3 separate regions of the Homo sapiens genome follow, and regions 1 and 3 are each linked to region 2. Evidence: fine-mapped expression QTL. A gene starts in region 2. Each other region holds a variant in brackets. All regions are shown on one strand. Distances are between the middles of the regions. Region 1 has its middle 61 kb from the start of PIRAT1. Region 2 holds the start of PIRAT1 (PU.1 (SPI1) induced regulator of S100A8 and S100A9 alarmin transcription 1). Region 3 overlaps PIRAT1 (PU.1 (SPI1) induced regulator of S100A8 and S100A9 alarmin transcription 1).

Region 1 (4,241 bases), 61 kb before region 2:
GCAGAGCTGGCTCACCCTGAGGTGTGACTGTGTGAAAACTAAAAGCCATGAGCCAATCATTGTAGGTCAGGCCATGGAGGGTGTTATGTCCACTAAGCTGAACCTATGGAGCGTCATGGTGCCCTGAATACTGCTGTGAAAGCATCCTGCGCCACCAGCACCTGGGATCACTGCCAGAGAAGAGGCCTCTGCCGCCATGCTCTTTGGCAGCAGTTCCAGTGTGGAGCTTTGCCTCCCATTCCCCCTACCTCCCACTGGCATCATCCCTCTATTGCCCATGCCTACTAGATGACTTACTTCGGAACCTCCTCTAGTCCCGCCATCCTGTGCTGGGGCTGAGTGATGGAATTAGAAGTGCTTTAATGAGAAGAGACCTGGATGCAACTCTGGTTCTGAAGAATTCCAGCACTGGGGCAAGATGGTGCGCTTGTACCTAAGGATGCTGGAGAAACAGGGAACTGGACTCTGCCTGCTTCTGTGCCTTGGGCTCAGCCTTCCCCAGGCACCGTCTACTCAGCCATCAGTACCCCTCTGTTGTGAGGAGTGTCTGAGATCGGCCTGCACTGGACATTTGCAAGCATCTGGATCCCTGGACTGCTAATAGAAAGAGGTTGGTCTTTTGAAGAAGGTTCAATTTGACTTCTGGACTCATGGCTATTTTCAGAAAGTGTGTTTTCTGGAACTTCATTCTAGGGATTAAAGGAGACAAATTACCTCAGTTTTAAAACCTGCTTAATTAATGTGCTCTAAATCTGGAAATGATTCAAATGTTTGTCAGTTGGTGATTGGAAAAACAAACCGTGGGAAAACCATACAATGAAATACTTACCAATATAAAGGAATGAACTATTTTTATTATATGTAATAGCATGAATAAATCTCAAAATAATGCTGAGTGAAGAAGTCAGATGAAAAAGGGGCCATACTGCATGATTCCAATCATATAAAAATTTAGAAAATACAGCCCATAGTGACAGAAAGCATGTGAGTGGTTGTCTGAGGTTGAGGGTATGGGTCAGGGAGAGGTGAAAGGGAAGGATCAAAAAGGGTCGTCAGAAAACCTTTGGGGTGACTGATATGTGCATTTTTGATTGTGGTGATGGTTTCATTGGTATGTACATATGTAAAATCATCAAATTGTACGTGTTGAACATATGTAATCTATTGTACATCAATAACATGTCAATAAACCTGCAAAAAAGATAATATATACAAGATACTTAGCAGTGTGCCTGGCATGCAGTCTGTGCTTGATAAATAGGAGTTATGTTGCTGTTTTCACACTCGGCTTCACTGTCACCTACTTTAGTGAGAACAGGAGCTAAAGACATGGAGACCCCGATCCTATGATGTGTCTCAAATGGACTCTGCCCAAAAGCTGAGGGAGGCTCTGTGTGCATCAGAACTAGAGCCAGTACGGAAAGAGATTCAGAAATTGGTTTAGGAACCCCTTCCAACCAAAGTGACACTTCCCAAAAAAACATGTTATAATATCAGTGTTATAGGAGAAAAACCTTCTTGAAATATATTTCCGATAATGCCTGTAATTCTGAAAGCACATTTTGGCCTGCTTTCTCACCTTGTCCAGACTGAAGAATTGTTTCAGTTTAGTATCAATCAGCCCCTTGATTCTAAAATGCCATTGCCCAGGTATAGACAGCTCACCCCATGGCATGAGGACTCTTCCTCGTGGATTTCTGCAACCCTGGGCTCTAGGTTTGGTTGGGTACTGCGATCAAGCTTCCCCCACAGTCTTAGTTCATCTCTGCTGTGTTCAACAAACATTCATTTCAAGGAATATCCACTCTCCTTCATAAATGTTGAAAATTTCATAATCTCCCCTGGCCATCCTGTCATTGCTCATATGTGAATTAGGTGATTGCTTCTTTGGAGGGTTTGAGAGAGTCCAGGAAGACCACCTTGATATGACAAAATTCCCACTGCACCCCAAGTGATTCCTTTTCCAATTAAATATTAACTTAAAAAAACACAAGCATGCCTTAGGTAAAGGAGGTAAATAGTGAGTAAATAGTTTATTTCTAGAGAGGAAAAAAGGAAGAATAATAATGTTGGATCAAAGGATAAAACATCAACAAGGGGGAATTTTTCTGAAAGATAAGTCTCACCAACTTTACCATTTGGGGGCCAGTGCCTTCCACTCCCTTTCAAAGGCCTAGCATTGGTAGCCTTTGCATTTGTGTCAGCAAAACCCAGAGAGGGTGTTTCAGCATGCTCTGAGGATCAGGCACCCAACACT[C/CT]TTTTTTTTTTTTTTTTTTTGAGACGGAGTCTGGCTCTTTCGCCCAGGCTGGAGTGCAGTGGCGCAATCTCGGCTCACTGCAAGCTCCGCCTCCCAGGTTCACGCCATTCTCCTGCCTCAGCCTCCCGAGTAGCTGGGACTACAGGCGCCCGCCACTATGCCCGGCTAATTTTTTGTATTTTTAGTGGAAATGGGGTTTCACCATGTTAGCCAGGATGGTCTCAATCTCCTGACCTCGTGATCCGCCCGCCTCGGCCTTCCAAAGTGCTGGGATTACAGGCGTGGGCCACCGCGCCCGGCCCAACACTCTTAAGAAAAATCTGTTGTCAAAGCCCTGTATAAAAAGGGAAATTTCAGCTGCTATTTTAATTAGGTGAAAGCCAATTTGAGACTTCAATAATTTGACACTTTCTGATTTTCTTGGCCCCTGACTTCAGTCTCTTGGTTACTGGACAAACTATGTTTGGTTGGTTGGTTTGGTTTTTTGTTGTTTTGTTACTTTTCTGAGCCTCTATCTATCTGCCCTCTAATCACACAAGAGCTGTAGTATTTAATGTAGTTTCATACAGAAGTATCATAAAACTGATCAGAGAAGGTGTAGTTATAAAAACTGAAACCTGAAACAGTGAGGAGTCCTATGCCTGGGTTCATGGCGTCAGGCCAGAGAGATGGGAGTCCGCTGGCTTCTCGGCCTCTGATGGCAATGTTGCTTTTTCTTCTAGGCCAGGCGCCTGACTCAGGAACTTCACCTACAACTGCATGTCACACTTGGAATCAGTGCCTATTCAGACTCCAGGAAGTCTTAGATGAGGATGAGGGATTGACCTGTCTCCAGGAGGGGCCATACCACATACACCTCTGTCCGCGGCTTCTGGTGATTCAGGAAGCCAGAGGTCAGGGAAGGGAGTGTATACAGGAGAAGTGGCCCCGAAGCCTGCGTTAGTCAGGTGATTGATGGCTGACCCTGGGCAAAAGGGTGAAGCCAGCAAAATGCAGCTTTTATTCTACAAACATTCATTGAGCAACTATTGTACACCAAGCGCTATAATAATCTGTGGGAAAATATTGGCAAACAGGAAACAAGAACTTACTGTTCAGTGGGAGATAGAGACTTAATTCAAATATCAGACTCTAAGCAATGGGTCTCCCTGCCATGAGGGCCCCCCTTCTCCCTGTGATCAGACTTCTGAGCGCATTTTTGTTCTTTACGGATAGCGTCCTGTTTCTCCCAAATCCTTTTTTCTCTGGCATCCCTGTTCCCGCAGTACTTTAAAATATTCAGTTTCTCCCTTTCCCTCCCTGGTCGACTGTTACTTGCCCATGTCAGACTCCCTGACCCCTCCGTCACCCCTTCCTAACCTCAGTGCCACCAGATTGTCCTCCTTTTCCTGTTTTGCAGCCCAGCCCTAGTGTCAGGGCGGGGGCCTGGAGGAGCCCAAGGTGCTGCAGCAGAAGAGAGAAAAGAGAACGACAACACTCAGCTCGCCAGTCTGGTCGCTGGGTTCACTGCCACCATGGCAATGAGACAGACGCTGCTCACCTACTTTGGCCACACGTGGCCCATGGTTGATTTGGCCTTCAGTGGCATCACGACTTATGGGTATTTCTTAACCAGCGCTTACAAAGATGGTAAACCTATGCTACGCCAGGGAGATACAGGAGACTGGATTGGAACATTTTGGGGTCATAAAGGTGCTGTTTGGGGTGCAACACTGAATGCCACCAAAGCAGCAACAGCAGCTGCAGATTTCACAGCCAAAGTGTGGGATGCTGTCTTAGGAGATGAATTGATGACCTTGGCTCATAAATACATTGTCAAGACTGTGTATTTCATGCAGGATAGTAATTATTTGTTAACCAAGGGACAGGATAAACTGTTACGCATGTATGACTTGAACAAACCCAAAGCAAGACCTAAGGAAATTAGTGGTCACACTTCTGGTATAAAAAAAAGGCTCCTATGGTGCAGTGAGGATAAACAGAT
Region 2 (4,241 bases):
AAGCCAGCTAGTCAAGGGCATGCTTATCGTTGTTTTTTGGTTACCCAGAATCTGAACCTCCATCCTATGTTTGAGATTCCCTACCTCATGGAATCTGGTGGATAAGCAGAGCCCATGGTCCATTACATAGAATTTGAAAATGCCTGATAGTGGTTTTATCAGCCTCTCTTGTAGAAGGAGCCAAGGCCTGTGGCCAAGGCTCCACCAGCCAGACACACTGGCCCACAATTTGAGTTAGGAACCAATGACTCAAGGACAAAGAGACTGAGAAAGCCCTCATAGGAGATGGCAGCAGCTGCAGAAAGATGGGGATTCCAAGGGTGCTGGTGACAGCGGGTTCCAGCAGTGTTAGTATCTGGGACGGTAGCATTGGTGACATAACCAGTGGCAGCTGGGGCAGCAGAGATCCCACCAATTCGTGCAATGCGTGCACTCTTCTTGGCTATAAACCACTAAGCCTTCCCAAACATTCCTGGAGCTGTCAAAGTCTACACATAAATCCTTCTTCTACTTAAACCCGCCAGAGTTCCTTGTGCCCTCATCTAAGAGCTGAACACAAGTAGTAACAAGTGCTCAATCAAAAGGAAAGCCAGACGAAGGCATGGAGAGTGATGAGAGGCTACCTTAGGTAGGTGGCCAAACTCAGCCTCTCCATGGATATGGCTTTTAAGTCTCTCCAGAAAGCCCGAGAGCAAGGCCACCTGAAGACCTGAGGGAAAGAACTCCAGAGAGAGGACACAGTGCAAAGGCTGGGCAGTGACAAGCTGGGGGGCTGAGGAATACCAAGAAGGCCAGTGTAGCCTGAGCTGAGACAGAAGCTAAGTCAGAAGGACAAGCCAGGGCCACAGTTGGTGAGGCTGGTTAGATTGTCGTGTGGAGTTTGAGTGTCATGCTGCGTGTGAGGGAAGCCCCAGCTGGTTTTAAGCAAGGTGACACGGTCTGGTAGTTGAAAAGATCACCCCGGCTGCTGTCAGAAGAATAGTCTGTAGCAAGACAGGAGTGGAAGCAGAAAGATCAGAGACTCTTGCAGAGGTTCAGGAGCCAGGTAGTATGGGTCTGATCCCTCTAGGCCGAGGGCGTTTGAGTGGCGGTGGTGGGAAGAAGAAAGATGAGGAGTAGATTTTGAAGGTAGAGCTGAGAAGCCTTGCTGTGTGTTAGATGAAGGGTGTGAAGGAAAGAGACAGTTCGGGACCGAGCCGCTCTCTGAGATGGGGAAGATGAAGAGAAAGGCAAGCTGGTGGGTGGAGAAGTCAGGATCAAGAGTTTGGCTTTAGATCTAGTGAGTGGGAAACACCAATGAGGTGGAGTGGAGACAGAGTCTGCAGGGGGATGTAAGGACCTGGATGAGGTGGGGGCGAGCTGGGCGCTGGAACTAAGTGTGTGGGATTCCTCGGCACGGGGAGGAAATGTACAGCCATGAAGCTCAATATGCTCACTCAGACGAGAGTGTGGTTCGAGAAGGGGGCTCAGGACAGAGCGCTGGGGAACCAGGGATGAAGAGATCACAGCGAGGAAGAGAATCCAGCTAGGGAACTGCAGGGCGGGAGGAAGAACACAGACTACGGCGTCCTGGAAGCCAAGAAAAGAAAACAGGGGCCTTGGCAATGACCCTAGGCACTTCCAGAGGATGCTTGTATCAAGCAGGTAAGGGGACTGGGGCTCCCAGAGGATGGGCCACCCCGTTTCAGTGCATGGCCCGGCGCCTCTTTAGAAGAGGAAGCCCCTGGATTCCAGAACGTGCTGGCTCCACCCAAGGCAGACGGCAGTGAGGCCACACACTATTCCCAGCCCCTTTCTCTCTGAAAAGAGCCCTTTGTAACTTCTTTGAGAAGGAAACACCTCCGTCAGGGGAGGAACATTATTTGCTTCCTGTTAGAACAGACTTTTACTTAGGATCAAGCTCGGTGTCAGCCCCATCCCCACAGGGAGCAATAAGGGAAAGAGGAGGGAGGGGGCCGCAGACACTCACTTGTGGGGGCTGGTTTCGCAGGAACGGCTCCGGAGAGCTTGAAGAGGGGTAGGCTGCAGGCCCACAGCCGCAGTCTCTCTCAGCTAGAAACCCTCCTCCCTCCTCTGCCAGCCTGTCCTCCCCGGGCTCCGTTCGAAAGGCCTGGGAGATAGGGAGAAGGCTGGTCAGCCTGGGCGGTTAGTGGCTGGTTTAACACTTCCTTGCCTGCCAGCCCTTTCCCAGGAAGACTACAGCCAATCATTCATTCATTCAAAAGCTCTTTGCCAAGCACCTACTCTGTGCTAGGTCTGTGCCCAGCATGGGGACACAGTATTAGGCAAAAAAAAAAAAAACAAAAACCAGACATCCCCCATCTGCCCTGAACTTACAGTCTAGTGGGATAAATTAAACAAGGCACGCAAACACCTCTACAGCCACAAATGTGATAAGGCTCTAAGTGAATATCGCACATGACAGTGGCCCTGCTGAAGGCCAGGCAGAGGTTCCTTCTTGAGGAAGGACGTCTCTGAATCTCCAGAAGCCAATAGAATCTGTAGCAGCAGAAGAAAGGGTCAGGTTTCTAGAACTGCCCACTACGACTTTAGAAGCTGACGCATCTCTGTTATGCCGCGGCTGCGATGTTTTAAGTCCCCAAAGCCCAGAGCACATCGTGGAGCATGGAAGTGGTTCACTGAGAAGCTGAATCTAGTCCTGGGGCTGCTGGTGTGGAGGGTGTGTTCCGCTCTTGGGGCAGCAGCAACAGGTGCCGTGAGAGGCTCAGAGCTTTTGAAGCAGAAATGGCAATACTCTACATCTTCAGCAAATATTTGGGAGTCTTTTGTTAAAAGAAGAGCAGAATAAATATCTATGCCTCTTGTAAAACCCAAAGGAAAGCTCTCAGATAGGCTTCTTTAGGGCTATGACTATCTCTGCAGCTTCACTATACTGAGTTAAGTCTGTAGAGCATCTGTAACCCTAGGCATGTGTGTCCACAACCTCCACACGTACACAAGGACACTCCTACAGAGGACAGGCCGTGCGGACAGTTAGGGGAGGACAGTGGAGGCCGCTTCAGTTCACTTCGGTGCTTTGGATTCAAGTGTTTTTCTGTTTCATTTTCTGGGTAGCTGATTATTAAGCTAAACACTCCTTTGATGGTTGAAAATACATTAGTCCCTTTTCTTGCACGAATCTAATTCACCAAAGCCTATTAAAGTGCTTTTGGACCAATGAGGAAATTTAATGCTCAAGTATTTTATTCTGAATTCCAATTTTCCTTGTGTTATGATTTTACCTATAGGTGGTTGGGTTGATTGTATGGTAAAGATGAAAAAAAGCATATTTGGAAAGAACATGACAATTCTCAAGGTGTTTATACTACTTTACTGTATTTGATCCTTGCAACTGCCATGTGAATTAGGCAAGAAATATTTCAGTTTTACAAATGAGAAAACTTCTGTCCTGAGACATTAAGTGATATACTCAAAGGTCATATAATAATTTGTTTTGTTTTTATCTTGACTACCATACTCCTCTATACCACCTTCAGGACTCTGGAAGTCAGATATATGTGAGTTTTTTGTCAACTAAATTCATAGTTGTCTTAATATTCATCCCTTGCTAAAATTAAGGTGCAGAAATAAAATCTGTCTAATAGAGAAATATAAATCCATCTTTTGTCTGGATAATCAAATTTTACTATATTTTGTTTTAATCCTGAGAATGAAATTTTACAAATAGCTCAGGAGGTTTTCCCTAGAGTTCCAAATAAAAGTGTGTGGATCATATACACGTTCTGCTTAATCACATGACGGTTCCAAATTTTTAATTTCAATCCTTCATTACGATGAAAATTTTTGCGTTTTTTTTCCACCAGCTCTTTGTTTTGTTTTTCAATGGCTCAGGAAAGGAGAGGGGTGTGGGAGACTCTGTCTCTTTTGACAATCACCAGCGCCATCTACTGTCAAGAAATAAAATCGTGACTCATTGTTAACGCGTCAATGAACATTAGGGCTTAAAGAGGGAAAGACAATTTTATACCCCAGTACTTACTGATAAATATAAGTTCATGTACACATATTTTTATCTTATATTATTGTATTCTTAAGCAGCCTATAGGGAGAATACAATGAACTTAATATATAATTATTTATGTAATTCTTAAGAGCACTAACTTTGGAAGAGGATAAAAATGGGGTGAATTTCAGCTAAACCACTTAATAGCTACGTGATTTCTCTTACCCTCAGTCTTTTCATCTGCAAAATATGAACAATTATACTTAGAAGGTTGTTT
Region 3 (4,241 bases), 47 kb before region 2:
TCTTTTGGGGACCACCATTCAGTTCACTACAGCTGAGCAGCTGGGATTTGACTCAAGCAGTCCAGCTCCAGCACGTGGCCTCCGACCATCACGCCATGCTCTCTCATGTGGTTACTTTTCACAGGTGTCAGCAAAATGCCTGCTCAATGATCTGAGATTTTTTTTCACAAATCATCACAGAGCTGAAATGCTCATTTTTCTGTGCTGCTACTCTGTCCATGTTCCAGAAAGGCAGCACATTAAGTCTACACCACATCACGCATCCCCTGACAGATGGAGAGAATATCAGCAAATCAGATTGCTTTCTAAAGAAAACAGAATCCAACTTTGCAAATGTTTAAAGCTTGCATATTTTCAAAATTTCAAGCAAAAGTAGAAAACCTCATTACCTCAGATCACGGTTGACAAAACTACCATTGACAAAGAATTATCCTACATGCAATGAAAACCCAATATAAGACAGTGAGTGATTGTCCAAAACGTGGGTGTTAGGTCACTACCCAGACAACAGCAGAGTTGACGGTTCTACCCTAGCTCTCTTTTGATGAGGGAAAACATTATTTTTAAATGAAGCCTGCCACTTCAGTGTAGAAAACATAAAGATGTGGACAGTCACCATTGTCATTTAAAGGGTGAGCTGTATTTCTTCTGAAGTAAAGTGATGAGTCCAGGCAGTACACTCACTCTATCAGATATGATTTGAAAAGCTGAAAAATAAACCTCTGACAATAAGATTTTAGGACAGAAATGCTGCCAGGGCTCGAAGTACATTTCAGAAGAATAAAAAGAAAGTAAACGATGCCAAAGGCCAGACAAACAAAAGGAAAATTCCTACTTCGTTTGTTCTCATGAAATGCCACAGAAAAATAATCTGTTAGGCAGCTCTTCTGGAGTCCAAGTTCTTGCGCTGTGCTCATCTCTTCTTTCTGTTAAAGCTCGGTGCTTTGCAAGCTGTCGTTAAATTGCTTACACGGATGGACGGGGCCAAGATGGTTTTCAGTCTAAAGCCAGTGAGAGTCTCAAGGCAGATTCTGAAGGCCTTGAACCACCTGAGCCTGGCCAGATGGATTCTTCCTTTCACTGTTGTGACCATTGCTTTGGTGTCAGAACCCTATGGGAGAGCTGAGTCCATGACCAGAATCCTCATGCCTTTCACAACTCCAATTAGCCAAGAGCATGGCACGGAGCAGAGGTGCTGGTGGGAGAAAACAACACATAGGTGAAAAACCTCGGGATTAGGCATTTCAAACAAGAGGCATTCATTTTGCCCGACACCCAGAGTTGCCCCATAAACAAGCCAGAAACTCAACCAGGCGGTGACGGAACAAGGAATGGATGAGTGACAAACTGGGCTGTTGATTCTGTTGTAACTGAGGCTTGACTGTATTAACAAGCATGCAGTGATTAAACAGACCAGCACCAGAATTTTAGCAGCTACCTTGAAGCCTGCTGACTGACACTGTCCCTGGAGCCCCTGTTATAATGAGGTCCTTGTGATAACTTACTCCCTTGGATAGAGTCCAAGACAGGCACGTGCCCTGTGGAATTCCACACTGTAACCAACCATACTTCAGAGAGATTCCAGAATAATGATGGTATTGCTTATTTAGGCTGAAGGTTATCTGCTCCTCCTCCTCCAGATCCCTGCCAGCCAAGGGAAGAGCATCTCATTGGTGTCAGATGACAAGGGTCTTGTTCCCTTTACTGGAATAAGCTTCTTATGTCATACAGACTCTGGAAGTCCTGAAAAGCCATCTGTCTTGGCCTTTACTTTAGGAAAGAAAGTATCATAACCTGCCACAGCAGTGGGGACAGCTGAAGCCGGGGGTTACTATTCGCCCTTGTTACTATTCATGGAGGCTCTTAGGGAAATGACCAAAAAGCTCTTTATGGCTCTTGCAATTAATCCTGAAATTCTGGTTGTCACTTGTGGGTAGAAACATATGGTTTACAAATGGGTTGATGATTATTATTTCAAGGAAAAACTAAAACATTATAATGAGAGTTATAACATAATGGTGGGACAGTATAAATAGGGAGAGAATTTGTAGTGTTTTCTTGTTCGTTTTGTTACATGAATAGACAGCTAGGGGAAAATGGCATTCTATGGGGAACTGATGGGATTTATTTAATATTTATTTAAATAAATTTATTTATTTATTTATTTAGACACCTCTTTTTTCCCGTCTAAGTTATAAACTAATTAAGAGATGGACAAAGAATAAGGTAAAGGAAGGTCAAAATATTACCTTGGGCAGGGTGCAGTGTCTCACACCTGTAATCCCAGCACTTTGGGAGGCCAAGGCAGGAGGATCACTTGAGTTCAGGAGTTTAAAATAGCAACATAAGAAGAATCTGTCTCTCCAAAAAAGAAAAAGAAAAGAAAAAAAGGAGGTGAGGTGGCACATACCTCTAGTCCCAGCTACATGGGAGGCTAGGGTGGGAGGATCACCTAAGCCCAGGAGGTCAAGGCTGCAGTGAGCTGTGATCACACCACTACACTGCAGCCTGGGTGACAGAGTAAGACTGTTCCTCAAAAAAATAAAAATAAAAATAAAAATTACCTCAGTTCGTGA[A/G]AACAGCAAAGATGTGTGGCATGACTAGCTCCATTCCCTGGAATTAGGAAATATCACCACACTTATGATGAATCTTACAAAACTTAAGCCTTCCCACTCAGGGAGGGCCACATAGACATGAGAAAGTAGAGCAGAATGTGGTTGTTTTCCAGGGGAAGCTGGCTTCTAATGAGAAGGGAGGGAGGGAGGGCCTGGGCTTCCTGTGCAGATTCATTTCCCTTGGTTACCAGCAGGTCACTCACCCCACCTCCGTGGGCATTAGCCATGAGGCAAGAAGTAAGAGGAGTTTAGAAAAAAATCCTTGTTTCTGGAAACCAGAGAGGAGGGAGACACGGTTCACTCAATGAGTAGGAACTTCAATGGTTAAATGTGTCTTCTTGTAACAAACATCCATGTAACTATTTGAGGCCAGAATGAATTCTTCCTGGTGTTTCTTTAGGTGATTTCTCCAAGGGAGGCCTGTGGTATGCAGGGGATTTTTACCAAGACCAGCGTTCTCATGAGTCCAGAGGCTCATCTGCCCTTAGAGGATTGGAAGATTTGCATCCGCTTCCACAAGCTGCTAGCCTAATCCTCTAAGGTTCAAATCTGCCAGGGATCCATACCATGAAGGCAGTCCTCCTGAGTTTGCTTTGGAGTCTGACACTTTTCATTATGGACATCAGTGATTGACACCCTGATTGTACTTAGAATCACCCAGAGGGAGCTTTTAAAAAGTATTGGTACCCAGGCCCCTCCTCAAACTGAGAAAACTGAGGACTCTGTGGGTGAGCCTGGACATGGATGGCTTTACCAAGCTCTCCAGATGAGTCTAACGTGCACCCTGGCTTGAGAAGCATGGAGTGGCAGTCACAGAAGCCCAGGTTGGCAGCTGTCTCAGGCAGGAAATGTAGAATGGCAGTTAAAACTGTTAGCCCTGGAGAAGAATCCTGATCCCATTCCTTACTGAGTGTTTGTTAAGTTACTTAAACATTCTTAGTCTCCCCAGGGTGACCAAGGCCATCCGTAAAAGGAAATCCACTCCAGTAAGTGAGTTGAAGCCTTGGTCTTCATCATTTATGATGGTCAACGGAGAAGTTTCCTTTTGTTTGATGCCACCCTTCGTGTCTGTTGCAAATGGCAATGAGCCAGAACTCTGCCATGCAGATGCTCGGGTTATGCCCATGCCAGAGAGTCCAGTGTGGCTCAGGATCAATCAAAACAGAAAGTACCATCCTAAAGTCAGCGTCTGGATTTTCCCCGTCAAAACATTCAACTCCCATGGTATATATATTTTTGCTTATTCAATTCATATTTTGAATTCATATTATGAATTAGTCGAATTTTTAGATATGCTTAGTTGTTGGTCCATGTCACAGCTATCTAGCCTGTAAGGACCATTTCTTCTTGCTCTTATCTTGAGAAAATCACACACTGGTGCTTAGTTAATAAATAGTTCTTGATTATGGAAATAATTATGGCCTTGGAAGAATTCTGTTTATATAAGCAAGAACTCTTAGGTCTTAATCTTGCAACTGAAAGGGATCATAGAGACCCAGGTCTTCAAGTTGAAGGGAAACTTGCCGAGGGCCACACAGGCACTCAGAGGCAGGCCCAGATTTGACTGTTCTCTCTCCAAGTCCATTTTTCTTCCAACTTTATCATGTTGCCTCCCTATACAACCCT

What was found. PIP is the estimated chance that this variant, and not a neighbour inherited with it, causes the effect.
Region 1: its variant is fine-mapped to the expression of PIRAT1 in whole blood (INTERVAL, PIP above 0.99).
Region 3: its variant is fine-mapped to the expression of PIRAT1 in whole blood (INTERVAL, PIP above 0.99).

Annotation. Positions count from the first base shown.
Region 1 is chr2:37,813,144-37,817,384 of GRCh38, forward strand. It overlaps the pseudogene LOC344382. Among named protein-coding and RNA genes, the nearest start is that of PIRAT1, 61 kb to the right of the region's middle. The variant C/CT (reference allele first, on the strand shown) is at 2,258.
Region 2 is chr2:37,873,774-37,878,014 of GRCh38, forward strand. PIRAT1 (PU.1 (SPI1) induced regulator of S100A8 and S100A9 alarmin transcription 1) reads right to left here and starts at 2,090. Exons shown (of 4, transcript NR_110012.1): 1 at 1,970-2,090.
Region 3 is chr2:37,826,684-37,830,924 of GRCh38, forward strand. It overlaps PIRAT1 (PU.1 (SPI1) induced regulator of S100A8 and S100A9 alarmin transcription 1), which reads right to left. Exons shown (of 4, transcript NR_110012.1): 3 at 2,250-2,355; 4 at 1-1,195. Among named protein-coding and RNA genes, the nearest start is that of PIRAT1, 47 kb to the right of the region's middle. The variant A/G (reference allele first, on the strand shown) is at 2,577.